Homo sapiens: one gene and its partner. Changing the gene in region 2 together with the main gene of any one other region gives a genetic interaction. Each region holds a gene or a part of one and is shown on either strand. Other genes may lie near its edges.

Region 1 (3,816 bases), on a different chromosome or scaffold from region 2:
CCTGGCCTCTCCCCGCTCCCGGCACCCACACCAATTTCGGAGCAAAGTTGTGGGGGAGCCCAGGTGTTGTCAGGACCAGGCCGCGTGTGCATGTGCTCAGGACGGCACTGACACACCAGCCCCCTGCTGCCTCATCTCCCTCTGGACTTTGGGCAGGCCAAGCGGTAGGCTGAGGGCAGCTCAATATGGGCCTGCAGGCGCCCCTCGGCACGAACAGCCTCGGTGTAGTGGGTGGCAGGTTGATGGCAGCAGGAAGTAGGCTCCTGGGAGGAAAGGGGTGGGTCCCCAGTGAAGACCCACCTTCAAGCCAGGAACAGCTTGAAGCCTGGAAGCCTGGCTGCCAGTTACACGGACCACAGCGAGAACTTAGGGTGCTTTTTCCAGGCCCACCCATGACTGCCTATGGACCAATTAGCATTCACTTCCTCCCTTCTGAAGCACATAAAAACTAAATTTTTGGTGGAACGCTAATACCCTTTTCCACAGTGGCTGTACCATTGTACACTCCCACCTGCAGTGGACAAGGGTTCCAATTTCTCCACATCTTCACCAACACACGTTATTTTCTGGGTGTTTTTTTATTATTATTTTATTTTCCCCTTTTGGCGACAGGGTCTAACCCTGTTGCCCAGGTTACTGTGCAGTGGTGCACCCATAACTCACTGCAGCCTCAACCTCCCAGCCTCAGGAGATCCTCCCACCTCAGCCTCCTGAGTAGCTGGCACCACAGGTGCATGTCACCACACCCAGCTAATTTTTTGTATTTTTTGTAGAGACAGGGTTTCACCACGTTGCCCAGGCTGGTCTCAATCTCCTGGGCTCAAGCGATCTGCCTGCTTTGACCTCCCAAAGTGCTGGGATTGTAGGCATGAGTCACCATGCCCAACTGTGTTTTTTTTTTGTGGGATTTTTTTTGTTTTTTGGTTTTTTTTGAGACAGAGTCTTGCTCTGTCACCAGGCTGGAGTGCAGTGGCATGATCTCAACTCACTGCAACCTCTGTCTCCCGGGTTCAAGCAATTCTCCTGCCTCAGCCTCTCAAGTAGCTGGTACTACAGGCATGCACCACCATGCCTGGCTAATTTTTTGTATTTTAGTAGAGATGGGGTTTTACCATGTTGGCCAGGATGGTCTCAATCTCCTGACCTCGTGATCCGCCTGCCTCAGCCTCCCAAAGTGCTGGGATTACAGGCATCAGCCAACATGCCCAGCCCCAACTGTTTTTTTATTAATAGCTATCATAATGGGTGTGAAACAGTATCCTGTGGTTTTGATTTGCATCTCCCTAATGATTAGTAATTGTGAGCATCTTCTCATGTGCTTATTTGTCCATTTGTATATCTTCTTTGGAGAAATGTCTATTCAAGTTCTTTTTCTGTTTTTCATCAGGTTATATTTGTTGTTAAGCTGTAGGAGTTCTTAATATATTCTAGATATTAAACTCCTTATCAGACATATGATTTGCAAATATTTTCTCCAGTTCCATGGGTTGCCTTTTCACTCTATTGATACTGCCCTTTGATGCACAAAGTTTTTAATTTTGATGAATTCCAATTTATCTGTTTATTTTGCTGCCTGTGCTTTGTGTCATATCAAAGAAATCATTGCCAAATCCAGTGTCATAATGTTTTCCCTCTATGTTCCCTTATTTTTATTTATTTATTTACTTTTTGAGACAGAGTTTCACTCTTGTTGCCCAGGCTGGAGTGCAATGGCGCGATCTCAGCTCACCGCAACCTCCGCCTCCTGGGTTCAAGCGATTCTCCTGCCTCAGCCTCCTGAGTAGCTGCGATTACAAGCATGTACCACCACGCCTGGCTAATTTTGTATATTTTTAGTAGAGACAGGGTTTCTCCATGTTGGTCAGGCTAGTCTGGAACTCCTGACCTCAGGTGATCCACCCATCTTGGCCTCCCAAAGTGCTGGGATTATAGGTGTGAGCCACCATGCCCGGCCCCCTCTATGTTCACTTCTAAGAGTTTCATAGTTTTAGTTCTTATGTTTAGGTATTTGTATGCCTTTTGGACTTTTAAAATTTTCCTGTAGCAGTAAAGAGAGAAGCCAGATTGCAAGGGGCTGAAAATCTAATGAAATGTGAATACTGAGAATAGCGGGTTCTTTCCAAAGCTTGATCATGAAATGAAGAGAAGTAGAGTTGGTGATAACTAAAGAACTGTATGAGATCAAGAGGGCTTTGTTTTGTTTCTCCCTTATAATGGAAAGACCTAAGCAACCAATTCTTGAGATGTGACTCCTCTTCTTGGAACCAGATATAAGTAAAAAGACAATCCTTGGACAGGAGGGTAACTCTTTCATAAACATAGAAAGAATGGATGGGTACAGACGCAAATAATTTAATAAATTCAAAAGGCAAGTAAAACAAGATCCTCTGCTTCAAAGAACTCAGAATAGTTGCTGGGGAGAGGAGAGGAATGCACTTAAATAATCAAAAGCGGCCGGGCATGGTGGCTCACGCCTGTAATACGAGCATTTTGGGAGGCTAAGGCAGGCGGATCATGAGGTCAGTAGATCTAAACCATCCCGGCTAACATGGTGAAACCCCATCTCTGCTGAAAACACAAAAATCAGCTGGGTGTGGTGGCGGGCGCCTGTAGTCCCAGCTGCTCAGGAGGCTGAGGCAGGAGAATCGCTTGAATCTGGGAGGCGGAGATTGCAGTGAGTCGAGATCGCGCCACTGTACTCCAGCCTGGGCGACAGAGCGAGACTCAGTCTCAATAAATAAATAAATAAATAAATAAATAAATAAATAAATAAATAATCAAAAGCAAGTATCATGTACACCCAAAGCAGGGAATGATTAACTCTACCTAGAGGATTCACAGTGGGTTATGTGTGAGTGATTAGCAAAGTCCATCACTTCTGACAAAACAACTTAGGGTGTAGTAAGACAGTTACTTATAAATAATAGCATATATTTCATATATGTCACAATTTATTTCTATATAGCACTGTAAAATGTTCATACATTTTCCCCACTTATTATCTCAAATAGTGGTAAAAGAAAAAGAGTGAATTTTTTTCTTTTTCTGATACAGAGTCTCGCTCTGTCGGCCAGGGTGAAGTGCAGTTAGTGGCACGATCTTGGCTCACTGCAACCTCCGCCACCCGGGCTCAAGCAATTCTCCTGCCTCAGCCTCCCAAGTAGCTAGGATTACAGGCGTGTGCCACCACACCCAGCTAATTTTTGTATTTTTAGTAGAGACGGGGTTTCACCATGTTGGCCAGGCTGGCTCGAACTCCTGACCTCAGGTAATCCGCCCGCCTCAGCCTCCCAAAGTGCTGAGATTACAGGCGTGAGCCACCGCACCCGGCCCTTTTTCTTTTTTTTTTCTTTTGAGACGGAGTCTCGCTCTGTCGCCCAGGCTGGAGCGCAGTGGTGTGATCTCGGCTCACTGCAACCTCCGCCTCGCAGCTTCAAGTGATTCTCCTGCCTCAGCCTCCCGAGTAGCTGGGACTACAGGCACGTGCCACCACGCCCGGCTAATTTTTTGTATTTTTAGTAGAGACGGGGTTGCACCATGTTAGCCAGGATGGTTTCGATTTACTGACCTCATGATCCATCCGCCTCGGTCTCCCAAAGTGCTGGGATTATCGGCGTGAGCCACCACGCCCGGCCTGACTTTTTTTTTTTTTTTTTTTTTTTTTTTGATTATTCAAACCACAAAGTCCAATCCTAATTGATTACATATAGGATCAATAGCATTTACAGCTAATAAATGCCATAAAAGAACTGATACTGGTCGGGCATGGTAGCTCATGCCTGTAATCCCAGTGCTTTGGGAGTCCAAGGTGGGCAG
Region 2 (3,816 bases):
GGCCTATTTCTGGCCCATCAGACCCCAGCCCATTCTAATAACTCAGGCTAGAAAGGGGCAGGTAACCACTGTGTTCACTATGCTGTTCACCAAAAGAGGCACTTCTGGTGTTGTTTTAAACCAGTAGGATTAAGCCTGCCCTGAGCTTCTGAGAGTCACTGGGCACCCCATGGGGTAAACCTATTTTTAATTAAGGAAATCGGAAGAAATAGATTTGAGCGCCTGAATCCAGTAGTGTCTGAAGCCAATTAAATCCCCAGACTCCGCAGTAATATGAACTTATGAAATTCCCTTTTATATGTTCCCTTTTAAAGTGAGAGTGAATCACATTTCTGACACTGCTAACAAAAAGTCTTAACCAATTTAGCAGGGGTACTACTGCATTTCTACTGATGAGGAAATTGAGATTCAATGACTTACTCGACAACCCCCAGCAAGTAAGTGGCAAGCACCAGCTCATTCCCATTCTCTCCTCATCCAACTACGAACCAGCCCCAACTGGCACATTCAGGGCGGTATGGCCATAGATCCCACTATACTTTTCCGACTTCAAAATATGTCTTGCACTTACAAAGCCCTTGACAATTTCCAAAACATTTTCGTATATCACCTCATTGGAGGTCACTCTCCCATTCTGGGTCAGTAGCTAATGCTGGGACCTGAGAAATGTCCAGAAATCTTCTGGTCCCTTAAGCTTATGGGTCACCATCTTATCCCCACAAGGTACCACCAAAACTCACTCCTCTGCCACATCTTCCTCCTCTTCACCTGGGTTGAATGACTCATCTGAAAAAGGGCACAGGATGCATCAGCTTCTGCCCCAATGGAAATCCCCCCACCTCACCCAGGCACCCAGCTCTGGCCCAAGGGTGAGTCCAGCCCGGGCCACAGCGAGGAGCGTCTGACCATCCTCGTGCTCAGCACGGAGGCTAACCCACCGGTTTCTTCTCCTGAGTCATCGCTGCTGTCATTGGCATTCTCCTCCCGGATCTTGCCTTCCTCCTTCATCCTCTCCAAGTAGGCATCATGCTGGTCCTCATCAGAGTCAGCATATTCATCGTAGCTTGGGTTCATGCCCTAGCCAGGGAAGAGTTCACGGTGGGGCCAACTCACCCTCGAGCCAGAATCCCTGCACACTCAAAAGCACACCCCCATGCCTGTCAAGTCAGAGCAGCAGCTCCCAGAAGACCTGGGGCTGGATTGTCCACACACAGCCAACGTGCAGGGCCTATGCCCAAGTACTTCCTGCCAACTGGGTTAGTCCAAGCCCCAAGCCCCTCCCTCTCCCAGCCCCACTGGGGGCTCCTGAGGGGCTGCATAGACTGGTCTAAGGTCATGCAGAGGAAACCTGCACCAGGAGGGGGAAAGGGTCACACGCACCTCTTTTTTCTATAAGGGTAAGAAGAGAAGAAAGAGTGAAAAAGAAGCCGGAAAAAATCTCCACCCCTTTCTCCCCTATAGAAAGACCAGGAGAGGGTCTCATCCTCCCCACACAGAAGTACCTCTTTCAATCCTCGGTTTTTGATGTTGAGCTTTTTCGCGTTGACAAAATCAAACAGTTTCCCGTACTCCTCCCTGTGAGGGGACATGCACCATGTTACCAGAGAGGTAGTGCCAACACAGGGGCACACTAAACAATGTTCTGATTCCATGAGCTGGGGTAGACTGTGGAGCCTGGAGCTCTTGACTATGCTACCCAACCCAACAGCTTAGAAACCCCCAGAGGACAGCAGTAAGGCAGAGCCAGAGCCAGACATTAGTCCTGAAAGAACTGCATGGCTTTGAAGAACTCTGGGAAAGGAAAGGCAGGGAGGGGTGCGCATCTGTTTACAAAATAAGCTCAGAGGGGAGTAAGTGTGGGGCAGGGGACGTGGTCATCTTTTTTCATACTTCACAAGGTTGATATGAGGATTACACGTGAAGATGCTTATAAAACGTTTAGTCCACAGTGAGCACTCAATAAGCATTAGCCGCTATGTTCTCAGGCACAAAGCTCATTCCAGGAAAGAAAGAGATAGCATTTCCATCATGGTGGGGAGTGGAGGAGAAAAAAGACCAGTAGCGAAGACATATAGCTTTCAGAATACGGAAAAAGTTTTTTTTGTTTTGTTTTGTTTTGTTTTTTTAATGACCAGAAAGAAAGCAATGGAGAGGTTTCTAAAGTCTGAGCACTCCAGGGAAAAGGACCAAATCCTGATGTAGCAAAAGAAAAATTCTGCTCTAGGGTTGGAGAGTGCCCCAGGCCACGCCAGCCTTCCTAGACAAAGCTGGCTCGGGACCAGGATGCCCAGGAAGTGACAGGTGGAGGTTCTCACCTCTCAATGCTGCTGAAGGTATACTGAGTGCCCTGCTTGGTCTCAATTTCAAAGTCAAAGGAACGAGTAGTAGTGGTACCACGAGCAAAGTTGACAAAGGAGATCTCATCGAAGCGGATGTGCACAGGTGGCTTGTGGACGTAGATGAAGCCCCGCTCCAGCGGGTAGAGCAGTCCTGAGCTTGCCTTGTAGGAACAGGTAATGCACTGGGCCCCTGAGTGCCTGACAGAGGGTGCAGGGAGCCTGGTTAGTGCCAACCTCAGCAGAGGCAAAGGGCGTATCTAGCAGCAGCGACACGAGTGCTCATGTCCTCGACTAAGTAAACCTCACTGAGCTGTTCTGACAGAGGCGCTGGCACCTATTGTGACACAAGGTCCCATCCAGGCCTCTAGGAGGCCGCATTCCCATCTCAGGAAGGGTTTACCAAGGAGACACGGCATTTCCCATACCCAGGCAGGGCAGGATCCCAGGCCCACACTCTCACCCTTGGAAGTTGCCTGGCACTGTGATCTTGCGGTTTACCAGTGCTTTCATGACCCGGCTGACCATCTCATAGAGGGATCCTGACATGTTCTTGGTGAGCCGACCCTCAAAGCGCTTCTCCACTTCTTCCCTACAAAGAAAGCAAGGTGAGGTCACAACACTACTGCCTTCTAATGGCACACCTGTCTCCTGCCTGGACAGTGGTAGGAAACGAGTCCAGGGAGACACTCACTCGTTCATGTTCAGAGTCAACGAAATGTCCTCGTCCTTGGAGAAGAGGAGGATCAGGAAGTGGTAGCGAGTTTGGCCTTGCTTGATTGGGGGATCCAGGCTGATCTAGTAAGGAAGAGTACTAATTGACACTCTACAACAACTTGCAATTAACCAACGTAGAATTCTGCACACCAGTGAGATCCATCTACTTAACACTTAGGCAAAAACCAGGATTATCCGGCCATAGGGGTTTCTGCTTACCACAAAGAACATCTGGCGCTGGTCCTTGTGGGGTAACAAAAACAGACGCAGTACTGTGGTGTAGGGGATCTTGTAGTCAAAGGTCTTGCCATGCAGGTGCAGAAAGGTGGGGTAGATCCGAATGTCATAACGACCACGAGGAGTCAGACACTGCAGCTCCCGGAAGATGCAGATGGCATCTCCCGTGGCCTGGATTACATCCGCCTTTGACAACACATTCTGGGCAAAGGCCTGCAAAAGCACATATTGGTAGCCAAGCAGCAGGCCCTGCTCCCAGGCCAGCCAATGCCTGCTCAGCACCATCTGCTGCCAAGGCAACCAGGGGAAGCCTCACCTCAACAGGGTCCACACCATCCTCCTGGGTGGGTGGGACGTAGAAGCGCACCTCCATGAGAGACACCTCTGCGTCATCGTTTTGGTGGAATTCCAGTGTCACCTCATTCTTGCCTGTGGTGCACTGGGACACATTGCTGAGGGGTATCTCAAAGACTGGCTGGTCACCAATGTCAAAGGAAAGCAGCTGCCCTGTGAGGAAAGGGCTTAT

What was found.
Region 1: changes in SSRP1 (region 2) and ATR are lethal when combined (synthetic lethality), as found in Homo sapiens cells (one large-scale study listed by BioGRID).

The regions. Positions count from the first base shown.
Region 1 is NC_000003.12:142,568,734-142,572,549, forward strand, and holds part of ATR (serine/threonine-protein kinase ATR), read right to left. Parts: intron 1-3,816. UniProt on the Homo sapiens protein: Serine/threonine protein kinase which activates checkpoint signaling upon genotoxic stresses such as ionizing radiation (IR), ultraviolet light (UV), or DNA replication stalling, thereby acting as a DNA damage sensor.
Region 2 is NC_000011.10:57,329,353-57,333,168, forward strand, and holds part of SSRP1 (FACT complex subunit SSRP1), read right to left. Parts: intron 3,798-3,816; coding exon 3,607-3,797; intron 3,504-3,606; coding exon 3,273-3,503; intron 3,135-3,272; coding exon 3,031-3,134; intron 2,929-3,030; coding exon 2,800-2,928; intron 2,538-2,799; coding exon 2,316-2,537; intron 1,576-2,315; coding exon 1,503-1,575; intron 1,390-1,502; coding exon of another isoform or gene 1,258-1,389; exon of another isoform or gene 1,078-1,257; coding exon 939-1,077; intron 787-938; coding exon 741-786; intron 1-740. UniProt on the Homo sapiens protein: Component of the FACT complex, a general chromatin factor that acts to reorganize nucleosomes. The FACT complex is involved in multiple processes that require DNA as a template such as mRNA elongation, DNA replication and DNA repair.